Linked DNA regions of Homo sapiens: region 1 is linked to region 2. The links come from fine-mapping of genetic effects on gene expression. A gene starts in region 2. The other region holds a variant in brackets. All regions are shown on one strand. Distances are from middle to middle. Region 1 holds the start of ACCSL (1-aminocyclopropane-1-carboxylate synthase homolog (inactive) like). Region 2 holds the start of ACCS (1-aminocyclopropane-1-carboxylate synthase homolog (inactive)).

What was found. PIP is the estimated chance that this variant, and not a neighbour inherited with it, causes the effect.
Region 1: its variant is the best candidate, but not a certain one, in a credible set for the expression of ACCS in whole blood (INTERVAL, PIP 0.50).

The regions. Positions count from the first base shown.
Region 1 is chr11:44,038,676-44,053,968 of GRCh38, reverse strand. It overlaps ACCSL (1-aminocyclopropane-1-carboxylate synthase homolog (inactive) like), which reads right to left and starts at 5,988. Exons shown (of 14, transcript NM_001031854.2): 1 at 5,429-5,988; 2 at 3,848-3,907; 3 at 3,347-3,417; 4 at 2,565-2,634; 5 at 2,250-2,316; 6 at 1,210-1,307; 7 at 901-978; 8 at 463-563. The coding sequence starts at 5,932. The variant C/T (reference allele first, on the strand shown) is at 8,294.
Region 2 is chr11:44,058,741-44,074,033 of GRCh38, reverse strand. It overlaps ACCS (1-aminocyclopropane-1-carboxylate synthase homolog (inactive)), which reads right to left and starts at 7,764. Exons shown (of 15, transcript NM_032592.4): 1 at 7,333-7,764; 2 at 6,119-6,406; 3 at 2,719-2,778; 4 at 517-587. The coding sequence starts at 6,406. ACCSL (1-aminocyclopropane-1-carboxylate synthase homolog (inactive) like) reads right to left here. Exons shown (of 14, transcript NM_001031854.2): 14 at 14,057-14,196. The coding sequence ends at 14,114. RefSeq lists enhancers at 7,595-7,784, 7,805-7,894, 7,995-8,124.

The sequences.
Region 1 (15,293 bases), 20 kb after region 2:
AGTGGTAAGCATGTGATTGCGTTTTCCTTCATTTTAATTTCAGTTAGTTTTACATAACTCTGCAAAGTATGGTGTATAGTGAGACCATTTAGGGTAAATTACTTTTTGAGACAAAGTCTCACTCTATTGCCTAGGCTGGAGTACAGTGGCATGATCTCGGCTCACTGCAACCTCCTCCTCCCGGGCTCAAGCAATTCTCATGTCTCAGCCTCCCAAGTAGCTGGGATAGTAGGTGCCCACCATGATGCCTGGTTAATTTTTGTATTTTTAGTAGAGACAAGGTTTCACCCTGTTGGCCATGCTGGTCTCGAACTCCTGACCTCAAGTGATCCACCTTCTCGGCCTCCCAAAGTGCTGGGATTACAGGCATGTGCCACCAGATCTGGCTCTTGATTACTTGACTATAAGTGATGGGAATCCTTTCAAGAAACATTACCTAGTCTCAAGGGGTAGAACTCATACCTCTTGGCAAATTCCAGGTATTTCATCAGTGAGTCTGGGGAGTAGATGTCACCCAGAGGATTCTGAGGGTTGATTAGCACAAGGCCTCGGACCTTTTTCCCCTAAGAAAAACCCAAATATAACTGAGTGAATACAAGTCCTTAGCATCTACCCTAAATTCAGCCAAGGATCTTTTATAGGTTAGGCACCCAAAAAGGCCTAGGTAGGGTCTTGAAGCAGCAACTACTATACTGCCCAAAGAGGGGAAACAGGAAGGAAGTCTGGGGCTGCCATAACATCCCCACAGGACTAGAGGGACACACCCCTGGATCATTTACTGTCTCTTCCAACTAAGGACAGCCCACCAGGTCTTGGTGAATAAGCAGTACCAGAATTTCAATACTCAAACCCCTTTTAGGACCAGCAGTGGCCATCCTAAAAATATGGTTCCCACCTTACCTCAAGCCTAGCTTCAAGCAGGGCTTCCTCTAACTTGTCCACAGTGAGCTGGAAAGGATGGGTGTTTGTAACAGTGACCTGGAAGAGAAACACTATGTGAGAAGTGTCTCTTAAAATCTAAGTCTTGATTCCTCATTCCCATAAGCCCCGCAATCCTTTGCCTTCATACCAGAGTGCCAGTCCACATGCCTTCTCCACCCCTACCCAACCACTTAGATGGGTAGAAAGCAAGCCCCTCTACCCCTTTAGGTGTCCCCAGAACAGTCCATTGTCTAGGCATACTGAGCAGGGAAGGGGCCCCATTCAGACCTCACTCTCCAGGTGGACAGGAATCAACTCAACCTTTGCATACAGGCGGGAGCTAAAGGCAAAGCCACCATAGAAGGGAGCAGGGACCAGGAAGGCCTCTGGAAACACAGAGAGACAGAGCTATCAGTCCAAAGTCTCCCAATCAGAGCCTGTTGCCAGGCTCCCCAAACTAGCAAAGCTATCGACAGAAAAAAAGTCAGTTTCACGATCCTTTCTACCTGGGGATTAATGTTCTTAGGTTCAGGTGCTATGAAAGTTATCCATTATTATAGACATCACTGGGGGAAACAAAACTCTAGTTTCTTCTTTGCGGGTACACTAGAGAAGAAGAGGGAAGAATATCACTGAGTAACTCAGAATCCAGGGCACAAGTCAAGCGAGGCTCACTAGCAGATGGAGCAATGGTTATCAGGAAAGTCTCAACAGATTCAGGCCAAATATCAGAGGTCAAGGTCCATGCACAAGGAGGGCTCCAGTTATTTGGACATGGTGATCTCACGTTCTTTTCTTCCCATCCATTTGGCCTTACTGATGAGCTGAGAGAAGCTCCTTTGCAGGAAAGGGACTATCTTAGCACTTCTTTTGATGCATCCAGAGCTCTTTAACATTGGAGCCTCTTGCTTAAGCATTGTTACCGGGGAGGTTCAGAACAGTCCACTCAACCTTGTTGGGTCCAGGACTAATTAGCCTTTTTCTGAAGAGATAAGAAATCTATATTGTCTGAGTCCATTGCCATGGCTGTCTGTATTGCAGCTGAGCCCAAAAGCCCAGCCATGAACATAGTAGGTAGGCTCCCATCATCATTCCTGGGGCATACCTCCTTGAGGTCCACCATGTCTCTCTTCCCTTAAATGGAGAATCCAAACCCCTTGTTCCCACAGAAATAGGAAGATAACCTAGTCAGTGTGGGAGAAGGCCCACCACTTTGGGGAAAAGGCCTTGAGTCAGGATGCTCTTCTTCCTCAAAGTCCAGTGCCCGTGTGTTCCTACCTGTGTTGCTAGTATTTCACTGAGAGTGAAAGGAGAGCCCACTGACTTACCGCCTGGATCACACAGAACCATGGCCAGGGCACAGAAGACAGAGCAGCAGCCATTTAGAACCACCACCTGAAGACAACACATGAGAGGCAGAAGTCAAAACCAATACCTATGTGAGAAGGGGTAGCCATGCTTTCTCCATCCCCCTGGGCAGAACAGGCACAGGGAGCCTCCTCAGTTGGGACACATTGGCCTTCATGCTGCCCTGGCCCTGAGAGTCTTCACTGGTTCTCCTTGTACCCCCTAGAAAGGGCAGAGCATCCTCCAAGAATATAGCCCTCCACCAGGGTGGCAGCAAGGCTGGGAAACTGACTCACATTTTCTGGGTCAAGTCGGGTAGGTGCCCTGCAGTAGTAGGTCAGGAACCGGGCCACTTCTTCCCGCAGGCTGTAAACAGACCCAGAGAGACCTTGTGGCTTCCGGGCCCCTTTCCTCACTCATGGTCTAGATGGTCATTGTCCAGCCTAACAGGGACCTTTTCTACTCAGTCCAACCTCATATTACAGGGCTACTGACTAAGACCATCAACTCCCCAAGTCACACAGACAATAAATGAGAGTTGGGACAAGAACTTAGGCCTTGGCCGGGCACAGTGGCTCATGCCTGTAATCCCAGCACTTTGGGAGGCCAAGGCGGGTGGATCACAAGGTCAGGAGATCAAGACCAAGCTGGCAAACATGGTGAAACCCCGTCTCTACTAAAAATACAAAAAATTAGCTGGGCGTGGTGGCGGGCACCTGTAGTCCCAGCTACTCGGGAGGCTGAGGCAGGAGAATGGCCTGAACCCAGGGGGCAGAGCCTGCAGTGAGCTGAGATAGCACCACTGCACTCCAGTCTGGGTGACAGAGTGAGACTCCATCTCAAAAAAAAAAAAAAAAAAAGAACTCAGGCCTTTTGAATTATTCCTACTATACCAGAATAACTATTCCTACTATACCAGGCTGCCTCCTGATGAAGTTTTGCTCTAGGCATTTTCTAGAAGTTATTACCCAAAGAGATAGGGAGGTAACCAACCAGGAATTTGGTGCCTTGAATCCTCCTTCTGGATAAGGACAGCTGCCTGTGGGACCAAGAGACTCTAAATCTGAAGGTCACTTACAATGGCTGCCCTCTCCAATCAGGGTACTGAAGCAAGGTGTCCTCAATGCAGTTCATGTCACTTTCTTGCAACTGTTGACAAATAGAACATGAAGACAGGTAGGCCAGGGAAGTTCAAGAGGCCTCATTCTACTCCTAGTTTGTACATGAGTGTTTGCCCTCCACATACATGACCTCCTAGAAAGGGAATGGGTATATACACTGCATGCTCCTTAATGAATGGAGGCTACCATCTTGTCATAAATTACACAAGTAGATACCTCACTGGGAAGTATTTGACCCAGAGGTTCCCATAGCAACTTTCCCACCATATACCTAATCAGAGAATATCTCTGGACAGTCAGCAAAGCCAGGAGGTTAAATGTGCTATTCTAGAAGCTATTTCTTCACTCCTCTTCCCAGGCTCCTATGTCTCACCCCTGTATCTACCATAGCTCAGGAGCACGCTAGGGGGACTAAGCCTTGAAGGGGTGGGTCCCAACACAGCCCAGAACATCCTTACTCTTTCAGTCATCAGATCCATGCAGAGCTTGTTCTCACTGGTGCCAAGGTTAATGAAACCCTGGAGATGGAAGGAATCCAAGATCAGGTCAGTCCTCTTGCTCCACCCTACATAGATCCCTTGAAACATTAGTTCAAATGGAGATCTCACTGCCTATGAGGCAATTCAATCCAAATTTGACAACTTTACACGTTAGGAAAGCTTTCCATGAACCCAAAATAGTACAGCTTGCAAATTTCCCCATTAGAGCCACATAAATAAGTTATGTCCTATCGACCAGTCATTGAGTTCTTATTATGTACCAGATACTAGACCAAGTGCTTCTTGTGAGTTGTCTTAATTCCTGAAAAGAAGGTTCTATATAATCCAGTTTAAAGAGTGAAGTTTAGAAAAGTTGAATAGCCTACTAGCCATGTGACCTTGGGTGAAAAGTAGAACTCTACCTACCTGACGCCTGAGCCTGGACCCTTAATCCCCAAGGCCCCATCTGGCACCTACCTCTGCTACTTCTCCTTACACATTAGGGCCTTCTAAGTTATTAGAGGAGAACAGAGATAGGAACAGAAGGGGAAGGTATAGCTAATGTCACCCTCCACCCTCTGGCTGGAGAGCTGCTAAGGACCCCCTTTCCTGGAAGCCTTTCATCAGTTCCCCATCGCCCTTAGGGTAACATTCCTTTTTTTTTTTTTTTTTTTTTTTTTTGAGACAGGGTCCCACTCTGTCACCCAGGCTGGAGTGCAGTGGCGCGATCTCAGCTCACTGCAACCTCCAGCTGCCGGGGTCAAGTGATCCTCCCACCTTAGCTTCCCAGATAGTTGGGACTATAGGTGTGTGCCACCACGCCTGGCTAGTTTTTGTATTTTTTGTAGAGATGAGGTTTCACCATGTTGCCCTGGCTGGTCTCGAATTCCTGGACTTGAGCGATCCACCAACCTTGGCCTCCCAAAGTGCTGGGATTACAGGCATGAGCCACCACGCCCAGCCTCTTAGGGTAACATCTTAACACCTCCCATCCACCTCTGTTCACACCTCCTGCCACAGCACCAGTGGTCCCTACTCTGGCCATTGGACCTCCTTTCCCAATCACTCCTAGCCCTTCGCATCTTGAAGGTTTCACGTGTGCTGTTCCTCCTGCCTGGAGGGTCATGGCCATGGCCATCACCACATGGCTGGCTGATTCAGCCTTTAAGACCTCTTCCCAGACCACCTGAAGTGGGCATCCCTTTCACGTTCTTGGGAAGATTATTAATGCCTGTGCCCCAGTGGCTGACTCCATTCATCACTACGCTAAGTTCTTTAACGGCAGGCTCATTTGTCCCTGTGACCACAGGGGCCAACTCCTAATAATTAAGAGCTGGGATTAGGGAGAGGGAGGGATGTGGGGGTGGATGGAGTTCTCTAACTTTCTGGGGCATGTCACTTTATTTCTGTAATTATTCCCTTATCTGCAAGATGACAAGAGTGCCCGTTTCATAAGGCTATAAAGAATGAGAGCATATATAGCACTTGGCCCAGGACTCAGTAAATCCAAGTGACTGGAGCCCGTGAGGATGCTGCCCACCCCCCACCCCAAATTCTCACCAAGGTGTTCTTGTCCTTATGATATTTATCTTTTTGGTAGGCATTGTAGTCCTGGAAGCTCGACTGATAAAAGACAGAGATGTCAATCCCACGGATGGATAGGTCGCGGTTGACAAAGGCAGCTTCACAATCACTCAGTTGGGGAACTGGATCAGGCTGCCCAGAGAGTTGGGCCCTCTGCCCATATCTGACATCACCCCTAGAGTCCTCAGAAGGAAGAGGCACTTGGAGCTCCAGGCCACTCGCGGCCCCAGACTGTAGGAGGTTGATCATCCGGCATATTAAGCGACTCAGAAGGGCTTCATGCTCACAGATGGCCTCAGTGTGCCTCCTTTCCTCCAGCGACAGGCCCTGTCTGCTCGTCAGCTGCACGAAGTGCTCCGTCATGGCCTGCTGCAAGTGCAGCGTTATCTCCAACAGCTGGGTATAGATGCTGTGGTCTCTGGGGACCCGGCCTCTCCTCTGACCAGAGGGCACAGGAAGGGTGTCTGACCGATGACTCATACTCCGGGTATCTTTACTGGCCTCTGAAGGCTGCCTGGCACCTATGGAGAAAGAGACCATTGACAATGGAGCAAAGGAGGATCTCCTGGACCCTCAGGTCCAGGAATGGATGGAGACAGAACAGATCTCAGATCTGTTCTTCTCACTTCCATGCCTTGGTTATATGACCAGATTGGTTCATGAAGAGTTACCTACTCTTTAGGGCAATGAGTACATGGCCTCAAGCCTAGACACTGAGTGCTCTATTTAAATGGCATTAGGATGTGTTCTGAGGAAGAGCAGGGGGATATGAACAAGGAGGCTCTGGATTTTCCACCCCGTTCTTCAACCTGAGCACTTCCTGCTTTGTTTGGTTAAATAGGAAAAAAGGGTTTCTACTGCTCAAAAACAATCACCATCACTACCCACTGAGTAAAACATTCTGCTAGAATAAACTAATGCCTGAGGGCCAAATCTGGCCTGCCACTTATTTTTGTAGATAGTTTTATTGGAACACAGCCCCATTCATTTATTTATGTCTTGATTATGGCTGCTTTTGTGTTACAATGGCAGAGTTTAATAGTCATGACAGAGACCACGTGACAGAGACCATGTGGTCCACGAAGCCTAAAATATTAACTGTCTGGCCCTTTACATAAAAGGTTTGCCAAGCCCTGTTGAAGAACATCAGCCCTTCTTTTTGCCTTTTCTTCTCCAGGTTGGCCATACCAGATACTCAAAGCCTTTAGATTCCTCAGTTCCTCTATCCTCACTTGGCTTCCTGCAAATGCCTTCCACCTACTCACTGTGACAGCTGCCTTAGGCTTCCATCACTTGTAACTATGGGCTAGGTACATGGCTCTCAAACTTTGAAGTCCATCAGAATCACCTGGAGGGCGTGGTAGGAAACAGATGGTGAGACCTCACCCCTGAATTTTGAGTCAGTATGTCTGGGGTGAGACCTGAGAATCCTCATTTCTAGCAAGTTCCTGGGACTATACTTAGCAATTTTGTTTTGTTTTGTTTTTGTTTTTTTTTGGAGGGACTGGGTCTTGCTCTATCACTCAGACTGAATTGCAGTGGCATGATTATGGCTTACTGCAACAAACTTCCAACGATTAGGATTAACCTTCCTTTTGAAAACAAGTTAAATACTGAACGAGACCAAAAAATACCTTTTAAAGCCTCAAAGAATCAATAAATCAGATAGCAAGATCCCAGAAGGTAGGAAAGCTTGAGGCCAACAGCTGCCACTACTTCTTTAAGACAATCCTTATATCCCAAGATATCAAGACCCTTTTTTCTAAAAATCTAGACCTATGCCCATTCCACCAAATGCTACAATTCCAAGTTTTTCCCCCTAAGTAACATCCCCCTACACACACACAAACACAAAAAAAAACCTCGTTGCTTCTTTTATAAATTTAGGGCACCAGTACTTCAGAGTACCAAACACTCTGTCCAACTTCTTCAAACCATGTTCAGTTTGCCTGTGATGTTCCCATTGCAACCTATACCTCACCTTAGTGACATTTAATATTGTTACTTGTTCAGTGTCTGCCCAGGTCAGCCTTCAGTATTACATTCTTAGCACAGTACCTTGGCACATGGGCAACTAACATAGTTAATGAGTAGGAGAGGCATAACCACAAGGATGTTGCCAAGTCAGGGAAGAGATGAGCCATAAATGAAGACTTTGGCCATGGAAGATGGAGCAATAGACAGAGAAAGCCACAGAACAAAGCTGTATCAAGTCTTGACTTACGATCCCAACCTTTAATCATAATGCAAAAACTTTATTCAGTGTTAGGAACATACTGATGAGAAAGAAATTGAACAAATATAAGTGTTTATGCCTAGAGAAACCGTCTCTTCCACAAGCAAGAACTTTGCCCTGGCCCAAATTCCCTGTCCTAGAAGAGATTCATTTTAATGGGGCTCTCAACTCTGTAGGTAAGTCACACTATCTTTCCAAATACTTGATTATCATAGAGCATTGCAAGGGCCAGGTGAGATTCCTTTGGTTTTGCCTTCCAAAAGGTGGTGCCTATCATCCCTGTTGGTCCTGCGGAGTGCTAGTGGAAAGAGCCAAGATCGGGGTGGTAACCTCCCTCCAATGAACAAGAAGCTATTGTCACCAGGCATCTTCTTCCTTTTCCCAGGACTGGAATTACACATTGAGTATCTTTGCCCTGTGTCACCTTAACAACAAAGTCAAAGATGGGACAGCTCTTTGGACAGCTCTGTAACATCAGCCAGCTCAGCCCATGGTCCCAGAATTTTAGTTATTCCAGTTCAGTTAAATTAGGGGCTCTTAGACTTCTTGCCATGGAAGTCCTTGCTGTTACCAAAGTCCCACTAGTCTGCCCCATATACCAAGCA[C/T]TCAGCCGGGGACTCCAGGCACATAGGAAATAGGGACCAGGATGCGGCAGGGAAGCTGGAGGCCAGTGTGGCCTAGTAGGCAAATGGAGGAGGAAACTTGTTTAAAGTAGTTTGAATGAGAACCCCCCAGGGCAGATTTATATAGCAAACATGGGGGCCAAGGCAGGTAACTGAAAGTAATGCGTTTTCCTGGTAAAAATGTTTTGGTTTTTTTGTGGGGGGGGTTGTTTGTTTTTGAGACAGAATCTCACTCTCTCGCCCAGGCTGGAGTGCACTGGTGCAATCATGGCTCACTGCAACCTCTGCCTCCTGGGCTCCAGCGTTCCTTCCACCTCAGCCTCCTGAGTAGCTGGGACTACAGGCACATTCCACCACACCCAGCCAATTTTTGTGTATCTTTTGTAGAGATGGGGTTTCATCATGTTGCCCAGGTTGGTCTCAAATTCCTGGGCTCAAGTGATCCTCTCGCCTCAGCCTCCCTAAGTGCTAGGATTGTAGGCAGGAGCCACCATGCATGGTCCCAAAAATGTGTTCTCTGATAACAAAGTGAGTATGCAGCAAGGCCAGGAGTAAACCTAGAAGCTGGACTTCTGCCAAGACTCATCTTTCTATGGGAAAAGTCTATTGTAAATGACACCATTCCACAAAGGCAACAATGCCCCTATTCCTCAGCCCTAAGTTGTCTGGTACCGGGGGTATACCAATCCTCTCCTCAAGTCTCCTTGGCTATACCATTGGTTTCAGTATTCGTCAGCCTCCCACCATCTACCTTTCCATTCACCCGGGGGCCTTCTCTAGCAGCTAGAACCAGTATCCCAGGATCAGCCCAGTAGATGCTAGCAGCCTTTTGACAAGAGCTGAAAGACAGATCATGAACAGAAGTTGGGAAGGAGAAATGAATGTGGGAAATGAAGTGGGAACAGGCTGGCAGTTCACTTTTGATGCCAGCACATGGCTATACTGTTTACAGAAGGATACTTCTAATATCACTTTTTCTAGTGCCCTACAAGCCCTTATAACTCTTCCAGCCTTCCTTCTTCTTGCCACACACCAGCCTCCTCTGGTGTCTCAGTACTCTCACCTAATTCAGATTCTTCCTTCTGGGTATGGCAAGTATGATAGGGATTGCAGAATCGTCTTCATGTGCATGTAAGGGGAAGCAAGTTATTTGGGGATATAGATCCCTAAATACAAGGTGCAAAATTGAAAGCTCAAGTAGAAGTACCCTTGACAGGCCTAGGCTCTATTCTATAATTGCTGCTCACTAACTGTAGGATGTTGGAAGAATTACTTCCCCTGTCTGGGCATCAGTTTCTCCGTATGTAAGATGAGAAGAATGTGATGAAACTGAAGCCCAGTGAAGATAAGTACCTTCTAGGGTCTCACATTAGAGCCAGGATTTAAACCCCAAGCCTCCCATTTTAGCCCTAGGAAGCAGAGTGAACTAGTAGAAAACCAGTCCTTGCATGAACTCCAGCCTGGCTTCATGTCACATAATACCCAGAAAGTCTCAAGTTCTGAGATTGGGTTAAATCATACCGTATTTTGGTGACTCAAAATTCCAGGTAGAAGTAAGCAAACACTCTGGAAGCTGCTACCATAGAGTATATTTCTCAAAGCATTTTTAAAATATTGTGTCCAGCATATAGAAAATCAGGTACATAAATAAACAGCATGACCTAAAACCACCAGCACAGACAAGAGAAAGACCAACTGGTCTCCAGCTATTGGGAGTAGATTATAAAATAATTGCTTTTCTGTTGAAGGAGATAAAATCCAAGTTTAAAAATGGAAAGAAAATTAAAATTTATTAAAATAACAGATTTGAAGGAAAACAGGAGATCCCCAGAGGTTACAATATAAAGACCAAAAATTTAAAACCTCTAAAGATAAAATTACTAACCTGGAAGAAGAGGCTGAAGAAGCTTTCTGGAATAAGGCATGAAGACAAGAGAAAGTAAGAGAATATGAAAAAATCTAATACACACACAGATGTATTTTTTTGGAGTCCCAAAAGAAGAGAAAATGGGACAAAAATCATTTGAATAAGCTGTATCTTCAGTGCTAGATAGTTAGACATCAAAGCATGGATTCAAGAAGTCCAAATGCTAACTGGGATAAGGAAATCTACACTATATAGTGAAACTACAAAAAACAAGACAAAGATAACATCTCAAAAGCAATCCAGGAAAAAAATGTACCTTTCAAGGAATAACAGATCAAAAGCTAACTTCATCAACAGTGGAAACCTGAAGACAGTGGGATGTCATTTTCAATGTACTGAAAGAAAATAACTCCACTTAGAATCTTGTGACCATCACAGGATCAGTATTTCCACAGGCAATACCAATTCCTCAGACTAGTGGTTGCCAGGGGAGGCGTGTAGGAAACTGACTGCACTGGGGCCCAAGGAACTTTTCTAGGGAAATGGAGGTGATCTCTATTTGATGGAGTGGTAGGTAGATGGTGATAGCCATTTGTCCAAGCTCAAACGGTATACTTATGAATCTTATCAGACTTAAATAGATTTAAAATGTAGCTATAGCGAACTAAGTCTCTGCTAGAATATAAATAGCTAAATACGTTTATTTTTGAGACAGGGTCTCACTCTGTCACCGAGACTGGAGTGCAATGGTGCAATCAGAGCTCAATGCAGCTTCAACTTCCCAGGCTCAAGCAATCCTCCCACCTCAGCATCCCGAGTAACTGGTATCACAGGCACACACCACCATGCCCAGCTAATTTTGTTGTATTTTTTGTAGAGACCAGGTCTCACCTTGTTGCCCAGGCCAGTTTCAATCTCCTGGGCTCAAGTGATTTGCCCACCTCAGCCTCCCAAAGTGCTGGGATTACAGGTGTGAGCCACTGCACCCAGTCAACAACTTTATTTTAAATGCTAGCCTTTCCAGTGGAAAGACCAGGATGGGGTTGGGCCTCATACTTACACAGGATATTTGCATAATTATTTTATAGTAGAAAAAAGTGAGCTAGTTCCAAAAAAGACAAGCTAAAAAAACAAAAAAAACAAACAAAACAAACAAAAAAAAAACAACCAGGAAGGCTAGGCATGGTGGCTCACACTTGTAATCCAAACATTTGGGAGGCTGAGGCAAGAGAATGGCTTGAGGAGTTGGAGACCACCCTCATCAACATAGTGAGATCTCATCTCTACAAAAAAAAATAAAAATAAAAATAACAGGAGAAAGCATGTACACAGAAATAAGGACTAAAGACTATTTTGAATAGTTCTATGGCTACACTTCAATCTGGATGAAGTGGACAATTTAGTATAAAAACTGAATTTATTAGTCCTAATCCCAGAAGAGAAATAAAATCTGAACAAATCAGTTCCCATGGAAGTTAGAAAAGAGCTAACTCCCTAAGAAAGTAACTGGCCCAGACTGTCTCACAGGTGAATTCTACCATATATTTAAAGGAGTATATTACTCCAATGCTATTTAAATTGTTTTAGAGAAGAAAAACCCCATACTTTATAGTCAAATAAATAGTGATAAAGATTTGATGAAGTTTAATGAACTATGGATGAATTTCACCTATGAGTAGATTATCAATATCTTAAAAGCTGAATAGCATTCAGCAAATGGAATCCAATGGCACCATAAAATAACCTTATGACCAAGTGGGGTTATATGAGAATGTAAGACTAGTTTAATACTATTATTTATATCAACTTTTCATTAATAGATCCTAGGGAGTTTCAAAAAATCAATTATATCTATAGATGCTAAAAAGATACCTGACGAAATTCAGCACCCATTCTTTATTTAGACAACTTATTTAAATGAATGGTACCTATTTAACATGAAACATCTCTCAGCTAAAAAGCCAGCCTCCTACACAATTGGGAAACAATGGAGGGATTCTCATAAACAAGATAAGGCCTACCTATTGTCTCTGCTAAATATCTAACATTGTACCAGCAGTCTCAGCCAAGAATATTAGCCAAGGTAAGAAATTTGAGTCAGAAAAGGGAATTTGAACTATCACTATCTACAGACTACTACTATACATCTGGAAAACACAAGAGAATTAAAGGAAGATCTACAAGAGTTTAACATAGTTGTAGAATAGGGGCCCATCTCATGTTTTTATAAAGTTTTATTGGAACACAGCTATGCCTATGTTGCATATACACATAGGTCAGACTTTGGTAAACACTAGACTAGCATTTTCAACCTATCCTAGAGGTTCAAATATAAGGACCAAAAATGGAAAACCTCAACAAAAGGGTTTAGCAGGCAATTAGATATAGCTAAAAAGAAAATTAGTAATCTGGAAGAAAAGGCTGGTCACTTAGCTAAAAAGTGAGCCTAATGACTACCTAGCTGACCCATTCAAGTAGTTTCATTTTCACTTAACCCTAACAACTGCTGTGAGGTAAGAATTATCCCCAACTTTCAGATGACACGGTTAAGGACATAATTCATTACAGTCCATTGAATTTAGCAAGGTCCCCAGATATGACCTGAATGATTATGAATGACGTAAACTATTCATGGGGGACATAGAATTCTCTGAACCACAATATTACCAAAGACAGCTAAAACATTATTCAAGCACTGCCTCAAGTCAGGCTCTGGTCTAGGTTCCTTATGTATTTTATGTTATTTAATTCTCAAAACAGTCCTATTAGGAGGGTACCATCATTAGACTCACTTTACAGGTGAGAAAACAGAGGCTCAATGAATCACACAAGATGGTACGAGTAGGACGTGGAAAGGGGAGCTTCAAACCCAAGTTGGTCAACCTCAGGCCCCATTGCCCTTATAAACATTCCTCCTTAAGGCCTCTCCCTGGAAGGGCGCACATACTCTCAAAGCTTGGCATTCACTTTTGGGGATCCATGAGCCACCTAAGTCCATGAGGGACCCTACCTCACTGGAGGCCCAGGAGCCCTAGGCATCACCGGGTCCAAAGTACCTCTCTCACTCTACATCCCACAGCTCACATTACCCTGCCACCAGCACTTACCTCTGTATCTGTTTTCACTCTTCTTTTCTCTGGCCTAGAAACTGACTGAGCAAACCATCATTGACTGTCAGCACTCAGGGACCTGCTCTGCCGCCCTCCTCACTGAATGTGTTTACCACTGTGGCCTGCATGTTCTGCTTGTAGGCACAAGGTGACTTTAGAGGTAATAATAAGATCCACCTTTTCCCATCCAGGGTGATCTTCCCCAGGAATTCCCTATTACCTAAAGTGGGCTTTCTTTGCCCCATTACAGAGAAAAGGCTTTGCAACGCCCACCCAGGGAGAACCACTCATTGAAGCCACGGTTCTCAAACTTTGGAGGGTATTGGCATCACCTGGAGAACTAATCAAGTGCTACAGGACCAGGCTCTTTGAAGTAGGCTAGGCCTGGGCCTACGTACTTTATCAAGACCACCAGGTGATTCTAATACTTACAAACTACTGAGAACTACTAGAGCAAGGGACTCCCAATTAAAACACAAATGAGCTACTGACTTTTCCCCATATCTGAGGAGGTCATGATTTGAGAACAAGCTGAAGTGGGTTAACCCAGGGCAGAAAAGACAACTTGGCAAGAAAGATCAGGAAGGAGACCCAGGAGAGCTGGATCCCAATCTGCCCAGGCCCCCCTGCCTGTGTGGCCTTGGCAAACCCACCTAGCCTTTCTGGTTTTCAGTTTCTCCTTGTTAAAGATGGCAGTAATGAAACCTACCTCCCCGAGGGTGGTATGAGGACTAGACGGGAGCAGATATGCTAAAGTGATAGGGCAGGTGGAACCGCCCATGACTATGTGCTGTGGGCTTGCCAGGCTTGCCCTGGGCAGCTAGCTGCTGTGCTGCTTTCTCTAGGGGTCTACACAGAAGCAAGGCCAAGGCAGCCTGTAGCCCCAGAATACTCTGCCTTGTGCCTCTTTGCAAACTTTAATGAGAGCTTGTTTAACACACAGGTGCCTGGGCTCCACATCAGTAGGATTCCAATTCAGTAGGTGTATAACTGAACCCAGGAATGTGCATTTTATTTATTTTTTATTTCCATAGGTTTTTGGGAAACAGGCTGTGTTTGGTTACATGAGTAAGTTCTTTAATGATGATTTGTGAGACTTTGGTGCACCCATCACCCAAGCAGTATACACTGAACTCAATTTATAGTCTTTTATCTCTCACCCCCTTCCCATCCTTTCCCCCCGAGTCCCCAAAATCAATTGTGTCATTTTTATGCTTTTGCATCCTCATAGCTTAGCTCCCACTTATTAGTGAGAACATACAATGTTTGGTTTTCCATTCCTGAGTTACTTCACTTAGAATAACAGTCTCCAATCCCATTCAGGTTGCTGTGATTGCCATTAATTCATTCCTTTTTTATGGCTGAGTGGTAGGAATCTGCTTTTTAAAACAAGCATGACAGGTGATTCTGGAAGACTCTTGGAAAGACAGTGCCATAGTAGATTCCACACCTAAAGGAAGCATTAGCTGTGGGCAGGCACCTTACCCCAGAGGGCAGGACCTCACATATCCCCCATCCTGTCCTGCACTGGGAGCCCATCTCCTCTGTCATTTGTTTATTCATTCCCCATTCATTAAAAACAAAACTAAAAACAATCCACCGGGCACCTATTAGATACCAAGTATTGTCTTAGACCCTGGGAGCATCAAAATGAAGAAATAAATCCCCTGACTTGAAGGAGCCCCAGAATAAACTTTCCAATGGAAAAGTCTGATCCCCTATTTCCTGTGCTCAAGATCCTTTGACAGTTCCCCTTCACCTTACAGAGACTGCAAATTCAAATACCTTCAGGGACACAGTGGCGACACAAGTACAATGCTGACTTAAGGAAAAGGGAGAGGTTGGGGAGGACATAGGCTAATGGAAGCCTGCCTATTCCTCCAATAGGCATTCAAAATTTTTTAAAAAGTAAGGCCAGCCAAGCAAAGTCATTTTGCCCGTTGATTTCAGCCCTGTAGCCATCATTTGCAAGCTCTTCAGTGTGGCAAATAGAGCTTTGGAATAA
Region 2 (15,293 bases):
TCTTGGGATCAAGTCCTGCTCAGCCGCTGAGCCCTTAGAACAGTGTCCACAAGCAAGTGTTCAATAAGCACAAGCTATTAGTGTTATTTACCACCTCCCCTCTTAGCATTAGGAAAAGGCCCCAGCCAGCTCCCCGAACAGCAATTCTGGCTTCTCTAAAGCTACCATCAAAGCAAGGACAAAGACTTCTCACCTGAAGGCCCTCCCCATGCTTTAAACCCAGGTTCCCAGAAACCAGACTAGCGAGCTCCTGTGCTGAGGTGGGACTGGCAGGAGACCCCATAGTCGCCAGGTCTCCAGGACTAGGCCCTCAGCCTGCCACTACTGATGTTCGGGGCCAGGTCATTCTTCATTGTGGGGGCTGTCCTGTACATTGTAGAACTTTAGGCAGCATCCCTGACCTCTACACACTAAATGCCAGGAGCACCTGACTTCCCAGTTATAACAACCAAAAATGTCTCCCAACATTGCCACACATCCCCAGGGGGACAAACTCACCCTATGGCAACTACTTACAACAGATGTCCCCTCCAGTCAGCATACTGCAGCAGGGATGGCTCCACCCTCTGCATGTCGCGCTGACTCAGCTGGGGACAGAGAGGGAAGAGCACGGCTGAGGGCCAGCACTGCTACCAGCATCCACAGCACAGGGCAGGTAAAGCTGAACGCTTGTTCTGCTCATCAGAGAAACTGCGAGAGGGGCAGAGAGTGACAGCTTTCTCATACCCATGTTGCAGGTGAGGAAACTGAGGTCCAAAAAAGTGAGGTCACTCAGCCAAGGTCACAGAGCTAGCAAGTGGCAGAGCTGAGACAAAAACCCAAAATTTTTGACTCCTAGTCTGGCATTCTTTATACAACACTGCCACCTAAAAAAATCGGAGGGGTGGGTTTGCAAAAGTATTAACGGAAGAGCACACTGATCAGCATCTCCATGGGGTGATAGAAGATACTGAGAGCTAGAACCTCAGTCTTGGCTCCAACTTCTAGAGGGACTTAGGCCACTGTCTTCCTGCAAGCTCAGCTCAACCTCACACTTTAAAAAAAGTAGCAGTTTCTAGACCACCCATTCCATGACCAGTGCTAGGTTAGAAACTCCTAGTATTGTAGGTCCTTTGTCAAAGAAGGGCCAATGCAGGGGCCTTACGCACTGGGGCCAAAAGGAAGAAAGGGAATCAGCCACTTCTACATAACTGGGTCCAGCCTTTGCCCTCTCTCCCTTCCTCCCTTAGAGCCACACTGTCCAACATGGTAGCCACTGGCCACATGTGGCTAATGAACATTTGAAATGTGGTTCATCTGAATTAAGACACACTGGATTTTGAAAACTTGGTAGGAAAAAAGTATGTAAAATATATCATTAATAATTTTTGTACTGATGACATGCTAAAATGGTCATATTTTGAATATATTGGGCTAAATAAAATATATTATTAAAATTAGTTTTTACCTGGCATCTTTTTATTTTTTTTAATAGAAAATTTAAATTGATATATGTGGCTCACCTTTTATTTCAGTGCTTAGCTGCCTTAGAAGGAGGAGCTGGCTTTAGGTAAAACAGGCCTTTAAAATCTATTCCCTGGCCGGGTGCAGTGGCTCACGCCTGTAATCCTAGCACTTTGGGAGGCCAAGGCGGGCGAATCACAAGGTCAGGAGTTCGAGACCAGCCTGGCCAAAATGGTGAAACCCTGTCTCTACTAAAAATACAAAAATTAGCCGGGCATGGTGGTGTGTGCCTGTAATCCCAGCTACTCAGGAGGCTGTGGCAGGAGAATTGCTTGAACCCGGGAGGAGGGGGTTGTAGTGAGCTGAGATCACACCACTACACTCCAGCCTGGGCAACAGAGTAAGACTCCATCTTAAATAAATAAATAAATAAATAAATAAAATCTATTCCCTATAACCCCTTCCCCTTGGGGTTGAGATTTCTCCCTTTGGAAATATGTTCCTTTGGGTTAAGGATTGCTGTCTCTACAAACCCAAACTCTGCCACTGCCGCCTTGGGAGACACATTTATTAGGCATTGTCAGTGGTTGCTAAGATGGCTTACCACAGCTCAAGAAATCGGATTATAAAATTTTCAGAAATGTTGCAAGCTGTGTTAAAAACAGCCACTTTTAAAAAGCAAATTAATATAAACTGACAATGAAATACATTATCTTACAAACAAAGGTGATAAGCACTCAAACGTCACTGCTTCCTGATTTGCTAGTACCTTTTACTATCTATGTTTTTGAGGTCAGTTCTGTCTACATGTCTATATGGTGAAAATATTACATAAGTGTGCCCATGCAGCTCTCTTCCAACTCTGCCTGCAGTGATATCACATAAGGAGCTTGAAATCAGCCATGGTGGGAGTATTTACACTACGGAAATTGGCAAAACTACACATCAGGCTTTTTTTGTCCCCCTGAAGAGCTAATTGCTAAATACCTACACCACAAAGCACTGAGTGTTTCCCTCTGAGATCAGGGGACCCAACACAGCAGGAGGGACTGAGTGAAATAAGAGTCTACAGAGATGAAGAAATAGGACTACAGTGGGGAAGAAACTCACCTAAGATCACACAGAAAACTGTCCCAAGGTAGGCCTGGAACCCGGGTCTCCTGATTCCCAGGCCAGGGCCACTGAGCCAAGCAGCAGGCTCCTGTTGGGAAAGCATTCCAGGGAAGACAGCTCCTCGGAGCTGGTGATGCCCCCTAGAGGGGCCCTAGGACTTACCCGCCAGGACAGCAGGTCAAAGCAGAGTTTGTTCTCACTGGTGCCCAAGTTAATGATGCCCTGGAGATGAGAGGTACAGAGGCAGAGTTAGCATGGCAGGGGGGTGCCAGTGAAAGGCCCCAGGAGCCCATGGAGGCAGCAAAGCAAAGTGGGAGCTCTCTACAATCCCACCCTTTCAAACATCCCTCCTTGCCTTTGCTCAAGGTGTGCCTTCTGCTCAGCTGCCTGATCCCATCTTCCCATTTCTAAAGCTCTGTCCAAATGCCATGTCCTCCATGAAGTCCCCCCTATAACCCCACCTGGAAGGGATACATTCTTCTGGATCCCATAGCTCTTGATCTGTCCCCTTTAGAGAACTGGTCAGTTTCCACCCCAGGTCACAGGGACTGAGGTACACACCGTATCTCCCGTACTGAGGGTAAGCTCCCTGAAGGACAGATGTGTGCTGAAGACACCACTGTTTCTCTCGAGGGGTTTAGTGGGACTCAATACACATTTACAGAATGAAAGAATAGAGATGGTATATTGGCAGTCTGGAAGGAACAGAAGCAAAGGTAGATGTAGATCAAGAAGAGGTTCCTTTGCCAGTGCAAATACTCCCCCAGGAGACCCTGCAACATCACACAATACCTTGATCCCCACCCCACAGGCATTTATTGTCATAGGATAGGCAGGCAGGCATAACCCAAGCTCTCCCTTACAGAGTCCCCAGGGAGACTCGGTGCAGGCCTCACGCACAGCTAACTGCTGACCCCTGAGTTACTGCAGGGGGAGTGAAGGAAGGAAGATGAAAAAGTAAAACCTGAATGAGCTCAGGCTATGACAAAATAAAAGGCAGTGCTCCTTCACGACCTGGTAAGCAAGCTGGGAAGCTCCTCGAAACAGAGCCAATCTGTCCACACATCCTGGCAGCTCTACCTTCAAAACACATGCACAGTCCAACCATGTCTCACCCTCCACTGCTGGGACCCTGGTATAAGCCACCATCATTTCTTGTCTATATTATTACAACAGCTTCCCTCCCCTCTCTCTGTGTACTGTCTCACCTGCCAAGTCAAATCTCCATACAGCAGTCCAAGACATCTTTCAAAACCCAAATTCAGACCACACTGCTCCTCCTTTGAATACCTCCTATTCCACTTTGTCCAAAATCAGAAGGCTCACCAGGTCCTGTGGGGCCCTACAGGTTCTATCACCTCCACCACCCCATCCTCTTTCTGACCCCATCGCCTGCCCATCTTGTTTTTGGCTTTATTCCAGCTCCAGTAGCCCCTCTGCTGTCCCTTGAACTCATCAAGCATGATCTAACCCTGGAGCCTTTGCACTGGCTGTTTCCTCTGCTGGGAATGCTCTTCCCTAGATAACTGCATGGCTTACTCCCTGTGATGCGCAGCCTGTAAGGCCTACTGGTATTCACACCCCTTGAGTATGGGCTGGGCCTAGCAACGTGCTTCTAATTAACAGAATAGGCAGATGTGATGGGATGTCACTTCCAAAGTTAGGTTATAAAGAGTCTGTGGCTTTCCATCTTGGGTACCATGACCCAAGTGATTCTCTCTTGAATCACTTGCCCTGAGAGAAGCCAGCTACCATGCCATGAGGCAATTCTGTGAAGAAGCCCACGTGGAGAAGGACTGAAGCCTGCCAATAAGCATAAGAGTGTCATTGGAAGTAGAGCCTCCCACCCAATCCCTTGGCCCCAAGTCAACCTTTCAGATGAGACCACAGCCCCAGCTTCATGGCACCTTCACAAAAGATCTTGAGGCTGGGCGTGGTGGCGTGGACTGGCACGGTGGCTTGGCCAGGCGCGGTGGCTCATGCCTGTAATCCCAGCACTTTGGGAGGCGGAGGCAGGCGGATCACCTGAGGTCAGGAGTTTGAGACCAGCCAGGCCAACATGGCAAAACCCTGTCTCTACTAAAAATACAAAAATTAGCTGGGCATAGTGGCACACACCTGTAATCCCAGCTACTCAGGAAGCTGAGGCAGAATCCCTTGAACCCGGGAGGCAGAGGTTGCAGTGATCCGAGATCATGCCACTGCACTCCATGGGTGTCACAGCGAGACTCCGTCACAAAAAAAAAAGAAAAAGAAAAAGGAAAAAAAAGATCTTGAGCCTGAGGCATCCACCAGGATTCCTGAACTCCAAAAATTGTGAATTGTTGTTTTAACTTGCTAGATTTGAGGTCATTTGTTATGCAACAATAGATAACTAACACAATCCCTCACTTTTTCCAGGTTTCTGCTCAAATGTTCATCTTATTAAAATAGCCTTCTGTGACCTCCTTCTACTAAATAGCAACATCCCCAGCCCACCCATCTTTCTCTGTCTTCTTTAACCTGGTTTATTTTTCTCTATAGTACTCACCACCATATAGTATACATATATTTTCTCTGTTCATTCACTGTTTGTCTCCCTAACTAGAATATGAGCTCTATGAGGATAAGAACTTTGTTTCTGTTCACATCTACATGGTAGATGCTCAACAAATAAAGATTATTAAAGGGTTATTTGTAACAGCTTTCTGACTTCTGAAGGCATTATGAGAATAGCTTATATTTGGGACAGAAAATAATAATAGCAGCTATCATTTATTGAGTAGCACTGTGCTAAAAACTTCATATACTTGCTCTCATTTAATCTTGACTCTTCTACACAACAGGTATTATTATCCCATTTTATTTTATTTTTGTTTGTTTGTTGTTATTTTGAGATAGGGTCTCACACCGTTGCCCAGGCTAGAATGCAGTGGCATGATCTTGGCTCACTATAGTCTCAACCTTCCAGGTTCAAGCAATCCTTCCACCTCAGCCTCCCCAGTAGCTGGGACCACAAGTGCACGCCACCACACCCTGTTAATTTTTTTATTTTTACCTTTTTGTAGTGATGGGGTCTTGCTATGCTGCCCAGGCTGGTCTCAAACTCCTGGCCTCAAGTGTTCCCTCTGCCTCAGCCTCCCAAAGTGCTGGGATTACAGGCATGAACCACCATGCTTGGCCTTATTATCTCATTTTAGAGATAACTTAAGATTCAAGGAAGTTAAGTAACTAGCTCAGCAACACACAACCTATAAGTAAAACAGTTGCAACCTGAACCTTAGTTCTGCCCTAGCTCTAAAGTTGGATAGTCGACAGGTCGTGGGTCAGAATCCATAGAACATCATATGGTTCTTGAATTCCTCCCTCAGAAATCAAGGTCCCCTATATTCTAAATGGACCATTTCCTGATCCAGGCAGTACACTGGGGCCTCTCTAAGCTACATCAGAAGCCCTCTTGGAGGTCAGAGTACCATAACTCCAACCTCATAAGAGCAGGCTGGATGCTGCCTTATTGGTCAAGGTAGGGTACCCCACCCTGCAGTTCTCTCTTGGGTCCCAGTGGGAGGGGAGCTTCACTCACACTGGGGTTCTTGTCCTCATCATACTCATCCATGTGGTAGGTCCTGTAGCCCTCCTCAGCTGAATCCCAGAACCATTTAATCATTCTTCCTCTAGAGGACAGGTAGGAGGTATCAGAGGAGATCATGGCAGGATCACCCACTCCACGGAGCTCTGGCAGCTTCTGGTCCAGTTTTCTGGAGCATTCTCCTTCCAGATCTTCCCCATGGCTACTGCCCAGGTCCTGCATGCAGGTGGGGCCCAGACAGGTGGTGGGAGCCCTGAAGTCCTTTTGAGGAAGGGTGAACATCTGCAAAAAGACAAAACGCACAGGCCTGCTCAAGGGATTTCCATAGCACCAAGCATCAGAAAGGAGTTGGAGTCATGGGAGTCCCCTTTCTCTTATCTGCCCCTTCCTTTAGGTTTATGCACTCATCACTTCCTGTGTCCCTTAGCTGTAACCATATGTGCAACGACTTCAACAAGAAAAATCTGTTAAGGACCTAGTACGTGCCAGGGACTGCACTTGCCACATTGACGTGACTTTAATGTATTGCTGCTTTAGCGTGTTCTACTTCTGCAAAAGTTTTTCACTCTCCAGCCTAAGGGGTCATCAACATTCTTTTTCCACCCTTGCTCACCTCAATTACCAAATGCCAGGTTAAAATTTCCTGAGTTAAAGCAGAGTATTGCCTGGGAGTCCTGGGGGTCTTGTGGTGTAAAGGGTAGGATGAGATTATGTGGTGTTCTGAGGCAGATGGCGGGTAGGAACTGAGGGAAGGGAGGAATGGGAACCTCCACAAGTGCAGGCAACCCAGGCAGAGCTCCAGGGCCTGCCTCTTCAGTCCTGAAGAAACGAGGTGTGGACACCAAGGAGAGGGTGGTCTACTCCTGCCCGCGGGTGTGAACTCCTTCACTTCTCTAAGCCAGTTTAGTTTCCTCATCTGCACAGTGGATATAACAGTAACCACCTCGGGGTGGCCGTGAAGACATAAATATATATGTTAGTGACAATAAAGTACTTAGAACAAATCCTGGCTGATGACCAAAGTTCAATAAAATATGAGTCATTATAGCGTAACTCCTTGCCAATTTTCCCAGTCCTGATGCACAACACAAGCTCTGGTAACACTGGGCGCACCATAAACTCAGCGGGTACCCGCAGTTAAATTTTCCTCCGCAAAGTCTTCTCAGGGGTACTCTTTAAATTGGCTGGGCTCTCCCAAGAGCGCTCACCTCCAGCTCTCCCGACAGCCCAGGTCCGAGGAAGGGCAGCACAGTGGGCGGAAGCCGGGGTGGGAGTAAAGCCTGGGGTAGGGGGGCGGCGGGGTTCGAGCCTCCAGGCGTCCAGCAGGACGGCGGCGAATCCACAGCCAGATACCCGCACTCGATGAGGCCTTGGAATCCCGCAAGTGGGGCGGCTACCGCGCACGAAGAACCGAAACGGCCTTCTACAGGGCGGAGGACGTCTCGCGAGAGACGGCTCCAGGTTTCCAGGCAGAGGAAGTGTGATCGGCGCCAAGGGATTCGAGATGGAAGGGCAGAGGCTTTTGCAAAGTGCACAGAGGGAGGCCTGAACGGCTTCCTCCTCTGCAAAGTAGTGGATCCCACCTACTTGGCGGAGCTGGAGGAGGCGGTGCTGGCACTCGGTGGGCGCCCATCACGTGTAGGTTTTCTCCGCCCGGAAACGCCCTGCGGCGACTTACGCGTGGGTGAGGACAGCGCCCCCCTGCGCTCAGCGCGCCCGGACTAGGAGACTGAGGGCGGTCCGCACCGGGTTGGGCTTCCAGGCCTGTTCAGGGCGCAGTTCGTCCCCTTGCCACTCAGGCGGGGGCGGTCTCGGCGGGGACTACGCTTTAAGGGTGGCACACGAGGTAGCACCGCGGGACCAGGAAAAGGGAAAGGGGCGTAATGCCGTTTCCCACCTCCACTCTGGGTGGCCTGCGCGTGCTGGGCCGCCGCCGGGCCGGGTCTGCCACCTCCTTCTGCCTCCTGGCCTTGGTTCTCCAGTTTTCAAAGGAGGTTAGAGCCACAGAAATTTCTTGCCAAAGTATGCTTGGCTGCGGCCCACACAAAGGGCTTTTTAGATTCGGGTGTGAGCATCCTTATGGCCTTTCATCGCAGTTTGTCATTTCTGCCCCTTTCATTTGTAGGGGATTTTCTGTAGCCCTCATAGGTTCTTAGTTGGGGGAGACTCCTGTTACAAAAGACAAATTAACAAGAGAAAAACAGACAGAAATTTACTGACATGTGTATTTCATTTATACATGAGAAATCTGGAGGGAATGAGTCGTTCTGGAAGAGGTGACTTTGAATTCCAGTTTTTATAGCATCTTCAACAAAGAACAGTAATTTTTTTAAGTTACAAGACAAAGAAATAGGGCTTTGAGTCTCTCCAGGAGGCAACTTGTGAGAAGGCAAAAAAAAAAAAAAAAAAAAAAGACAAAGGCCAGTTAGTCAAGCTTGTTAATGTAAATTCCTCTGGTACCATCTCCAGGCCATAGGGGTCTAAAGTTGTCTTTGTTCTCCTAGGTAGACAGAGGGACAGGATACCTTTTGTCTTTGTAAACCTGTGTCCTACTTTTAGGCAAATAGGGCCAGGGTAGAGAGCTTTCCTGAATGTGCTGCTGCTTGTCTTTAGCACAATCCTTCATGTTTTGGGGAGGCATGTCCTGGTCTCCCACACGTGCCTGCAATATTTGTTGAACTCTGGCTAGGTGTGGCGGCCCACGCCTGTAATGCCAACACTTTGAGAGGACAAGGTGGGAGCATCCCTTGAACCCAGGAGTTTGAAACCAGCCTGGGCAACATAGAGAGACCGTGTCTCTACCAAAAAAAGGTTTTTATGTTTTTTTGTTTTTTTGAGACGGAGTCTCGCTCTGTCATCCAGGCTGGAGTGCAGTGGCACAATCTCTGCTCACTGCAACCTCCGCCTCCCGGGTTCAAGCAATTCTTTTGTCTCAGCCTCCCCAGTAGCTGGGACTACAGGCACGCACCACCACGCCTGGCTAATTTTTGTATTTTTAGTAGAGATGGAGTTTCACCATATTGTCCCGACTGGTCTTGAACTCCTGACCTCGTGATCTGCCCGCCTCGGCCTCCCAAGTGCTGGGATGGCAGGCGTGAGCCACTGCACTCAGCCAAAATGTTTTTGTAAATTAGCCAGACTTGATGACATGTGCCTGTGGTTTCAGCTACTTGGGAGGCTGAGGTGGGAGGATCACTTGAGCCCAGAAGGTAGAGGCTGCAGTGAATTTGATCGTGCCACTGCACTCCCACCTGGGTGTTTGCGAGACTCTATCTAAAAAAAAAAAAAAAAAAAAAAAAAAATTACATACACACACACACACACACACACACACACACACACACATATAATTTCAAAAGTATTTTTCAAACTCTGCCCTAAGCTCTACATATTCTGGCAATGGGTACAGTGGGCACCCAGGTCCCAGGTAGAGCTGCAGTCTCTGAGGTGCCTTGAATGGGAAAGTCTTCTTTCCCCATGAAAGGAAATAAGCAGAATCTCTCAATACAGGTATGGCTGGGAAGACATGGCTGTCTTCTGGCCATTCCACTTCTTGTCTTCACTTTTGCCTTGCACTAGCTAACACTGTGACCTTGAGCAACTCTCATGACTTTTTTGGCCCTTACTGTTTTCTTCTGTAAGATAAGGAAGCGATTATTTTCCTCTATTTAAATCTTAATTCTATGTAATTCACATCTCAGTGAATGCCTGTTATGTGCCAGGTCTCTGTAAAATGCGAGGATACGGTGATGAGCAAGACAAACCAAAGCCTGCATGATTGATTGGGAAGGCCGACTTACAATGTGGGGACTATTTTAAAAAGACTATTTACTGGGTACCATGGAAACATGCAGCAGGGGGATTTAACCCCACGAAACAACAAACACAGGCACTTGTCCTAAGTGGAAGACATACACACACGTTACATTAAATGTGAATTGACTAAAGATCAATTAAAAGATCATCAGACTGGATAAAACAGCAAGAATCAAGCATATGGTGTGTGCAGGAGACACACTTTAAATACAAAAACAAATGGTCAAAGGTAAAAATGTGAAAAAAAACAAGCAAATAATAATCATGAAAAAAGCTGATGTGTTCATATTGGTATCTGATAGTAGGCTTCAAGACAAAAATAATTAACAAAAATAAAATGGGGCATTTTAGAATAAAATGATTAATTTATCAGGGTGACAATCTTAAAAGTTTATGCTCGTAATAACAAAGCTTCAAAATACATGAAGCAGAAACTGACAGAACGAAAAAGAGAAAAGACAAGTTCATAATAATTGGAAAATTTTATACCACTCTCTCGGTGATAGAACAAATGGATCAAAAGACACTAAGGATCAGAACTTTTGGACATTATACAAAAATTTAATCTAATTGACATTTATAGAACACCATCCCCAATACCACAGAATATACTTCTTTTCAAGTGCAAATGAAACATTAAGATAGACCACATGTTGTAAACAAATCTGGCCATAAACTGTCTTAATAAGTTTCAAAGGATTGAAACCATAGAGTACATTCTCTAGTCACAATGAAATTAAAGTAGAAATCATTAACAAAGAAAGCTGAACAGTCCCCAAATATTTGGAAACTAAGTTACATATGCTAAGCAAACCATTGATTTAAAAAAAGAAATCACAAGGGAAATTAGAAAATATTTTGAATGATTAAAAACCAGCAGATCAAAGTTTATGGAATGTAGCTAAAATAATGCTAAGTGAGAAATGAATAGCTTGTAATGCATATATTTGAAACCAACTTAAAACAAATGATCTAAGCTTCCACATTAATAAGCTAGAAAAAAGAGCAAATTAAACCCAAAGTAAATAGAAAGAAATAAAGATAAGAGCAGAAATGAAGGCGAAACGAGAAAAATCAATGAAACTGAAAGTTGGTTCTTTGAAAAGTTCAATACAGTTGATAAACAGTTAGATTGACTGATCAAAAAAACTCATTTTGTTGCAGAATTTTGCTCCTTAGTTCAGCTAAAACCGGGTTCTTGTCACACCACCAGGAAGGATTAGGAACATGGACACATTGAAGGGTGAGGGGAACGGAATTTACTGGGCAAAAAGGAAAAAAGAAAAATACTGTCAGCAGAGCAAGAGGGGGTCCTGCTAACAGGCCTCCAAACTCACATTGAATCCCAGGCCACCACACAGAAATTGAAGAGGCCAGGCTCCTCCCCGCTGAGCATGGCCACAGCTTCCCTTGGCTCCATCTTGTTCTCCCAGTGCACAGATGGGTTGGAGATTCTCCGGAGACCCTCCCCGTAATCCCCCTCCTGCATGTATCAATTTCAGTATCAGGAAAGGAAAAGGAGATACAACTAAAGATCCTAAATGTATTAAAAGGATAACAGAATATTTATAACCAATTTTAAGTCAATAATTAAACTTAGATGAAATAGACAAACTTTATTGAAAGGCACAAATAACCAAATCTGATACAAGAAATAGAAAACTCGAACTGTCACAGAAATTGAATTTATAAGTAAAAGCCGTCCCACAAAAAAAAAAAAAGAAGAAAAAAAAAACCTCCAGGCCCTTATGGTTTTACAGCTGAATTCAACCAAATATTTAAAGGTTGAAGAAGTTTTTGGACACAAACTTCTAGAAAATTCAGGAAGGAACAGTTTCCCAAACATCTATGAAACCAGTATTAATCATGATACTGAAACTAACAATGCATTACAAAAAAAAAAATTATAGAATGATGTCCTTCTTGAATGTAAACTTCTTAAAATAGCAAACCAAACTCAATGGTATATAAAAGGACAATGCATCATGACCAAATGGGGTTTATTGCAGCAATGTGAAGTTGCTTTAACATTAAGAAATCAATGTAACTTACTACATTGATAATCAAGAGAAAAATCATATCTCTATAAATGCAGATGAAAAACATCTAACAACATTGAACCCTCATACATGGTAAAACTCCCAGCAAACTAGTAATAGAAGGACTCTTTATTAGATAAGGGACAGAATGAAAAATACAGTAACGTTATACTCAAGAGCAGAAGATTGCACTCAATGCTACTAAGACTGAGAACAAGGCAGGCTGTCCTCTCAACCACTTTTATTCAACGTTATACTAGAGGTTTTTTAAAAAGAGCTATATCGGTCAGGAGCGGTGGCTCAGCTTGTAATCCCAGCACTTTGGGAGGCCGAGGCAGGCGGATCACTTGAGGTCAGGCGTTTGAGACAAGCCTGGCCAACATGGTAAAACCCTGTCTCTACTAAAGATATAAAAATTAGCTGGGCGAGGTGGCACGTGCCTGTAGTCCCAGCTGCTTGGGAGGCAGAGGCAGGAGAATCGCTGAACCAGCAGCAGAGGTTGCAGTGAGCCGAGATTGTGACACTGCACTCCAACCTGGGCGACAGAGTGAGACTCAGTCTCACAACAACAACAACAACAACAACAAAAACACACACATACACACACACACACAAGAAAACTGACAAGAATAAACAAATTTGGATTCGGAGCAAGTACGGCCACAAACCCAAGCGACTAAAGCCACCAGTTGGTACTGTGAGCTCTTTCTTCATCCATAAAATCGTAGTAGTCCCTTCTCTGCCCACTTCACAGTATCAGTGCTCTGACATGCAAGGGCTTTGCAGAGAAACTGATGGGTGGCTTAATTTGAACAGCTGAAAACATTAGAAATGGAAATGGACAACCCCAGATGCTACGAACTGAATGTGTCCCCCCAACATTCATATTTGAAATCCTAACCCCCAAGGTGATGGTATTAGAAGGTGAGCCCTTTGAAAAGTGATTGGGTCATGAAGGCAGAGGAAGACCTCTCACCTCTTCTGCCACATGAGATGACACTGGGAAGATGGGACCCTCACCAGATGCCAAATCTCCCAGGGCCTTGAACTCGGCCTTTCCAGCCTCCAGAACTGTGAGAAAGATTTGTTTCTAAGCCATCCACTTTGTGATATTTTCATATTATGAAGGGACTAAGACACCAAGCTTGTCAGATTTTTTTTTCTTTTTTGTAGAGACAGGGTCTTACTCTATAACCAGGCTGGAATGCAGTGGCACGATATGGTTCACTGCAGGCTTGGTCTCCTAGATTTAAGCGAGCCTCCCACCTCAGCCTCCTGAATAGCTGGGACTAGAGGCACACATCACCACACCCAGCTAATTTTATTTTTTGTAGAGACAGGGTCTCGGTTGCTCAGGCTGGTCTCAAACACCTGGCCTCAAGCCATTCTCTGGCCTCAGCCTCCCAAAGTGCTGGGATTACAGGCATGAGCCACCGTACCCAGCAAGAGACTTTAAAAGCCTTTTGGGAAGGTAAAAGTGGAACAAACTCTAGTATTTGGAAGCAGGAATACCTGCAATTATACTCCCACCTGCCTCTTAGCAGGTCATGTGGAAGTGGATGTGATTTCATAAGAATCTTATAGAACATTGCATCCAACACCTGGAAAATGGCCCATCAGTTAAGGATGACTTCTTTCTTTTTCTGGCCTGCTCTAGACAGTATTCTTTACATAGAACCTGCCTTAGAATTTAAAAATTAAGGAGGACAGAAAATCATCTGGCTTCCAAAGATGATTATGAAGAATATAAGCAAGAAAATAAGATGGGCCTAGAATTTAAAAGTATAGAATTTATTAGGTACTGAATATAAAAATAAACCATCTAAATAGGGGCCCAGAGAACTCCCTTTATTTCTCTAGGTGTCTCTAGGCCTTTCCACCCCAACCCCGATAAAAACATTTTGCATATATAATGGCTAGCAAAGACTAAAAAGATGGAAAGCTTCCAAAGACAGCAGGCACTCAGCTTAAGGAGGGTGACAACCGGGTAAGATGAGATCTTCCTGGAGGAGCCCACCATTTTCTCCATCGCAACACTGACAAAAAGACACCCTGGCCTTCTGGGCCAGAGGCTGACATTAGGGGGTCCCTGAGCAAGTGATGGGCTGGAACTGCTGGTTGGGAGGCAGACGGCCTACTCCCTCATTGCATCCTCCAACTGCTTCACTATCAAAGCCTCCTTCTGCTCCTGCAGCACATCACAGAACCGACGCATAGCTAGAGGGTTCAAATGGGGACAGAGAGAAATAGTGATTTAGTAGGTTTGCTGGTGGGTCCCAGACATACCCAGGTCATGGTCAACCATAAAAGCCTCTCATTCAGGGATCCTGAACTTCAGCCCTCCCACCTTTGGGATGGATTTCCAAGTCTACATGTTGCATCCCTGATTTCTTTTTGAATATCATTGTTATGTCAGCCTGCGAGACATCTCAATGTCTTGTATCAAAGCCTGTACTCTCGGGCTTATGGCCTTGGCCTAATCAGGATTTCTATTTGCCTCTAGTGTCTCTTCACTCAGCCTATCTTCTATGCTAGCTCAAAAGAATTCTGTAACAAAAACCTTCATGAGAATGAACAATTCACTGCTATATTCCCAGCAGGTAGAACAGCATCTGGCATGTAGTGGAATGCAATAAATAAATGTTCACATGAATGTCCTATTCTCTATAACCTCAGAGGAGAATCTAAACTCTCTAGTATGGCATACAGGGACTTCCATGGTCATCTGCCTATCCATCTCACTTACTAGGCTGCCAGTCCCACAAGGGCAGAGTACTACTTTTTTCGGGTTTTGTTTGTTTGTTTTTGTTTTCTTGAAACAGTCTCACTCTGTCGCCCAGGCTGGAGTGCAGTGGCGCAATCTCAGCTCACTGCAACCTCCACCTCCCAGGTTCAAGCAATTCTCCTGCCTCAGCCCCCCGAGTAGCTGGGATTACAGGCGTGCGCCACCATGCGTGGCTAATTTTTTGTATTTTTAGTAGAGACAGGGTTTTACCATGCTGGCCAGGCTGGTCTGGAACTCCTGACCTCATGATCCACCCACCTCGGCCTCCCAAAGTGCTGGGATTACAGGCATAAGACACCGCACCTGGCCTCAGAGTACTACTTTTTAGCTTGTGGTCCCAATGCCTCACTCAATGGCAGTCACAGAACAGATACCCCAAATGGGTAATGAATGGATAGGTGCTTGAGGTACATATCAGTTCTTGTTTGCAAGAGCACCTAACTAAAGATAGACATGGAAACAGGGAATAAAGGGCTAGATCTATAGGATGTTTAAGGGGGGTGGGGGAGAAGATTGACATATTAAATTG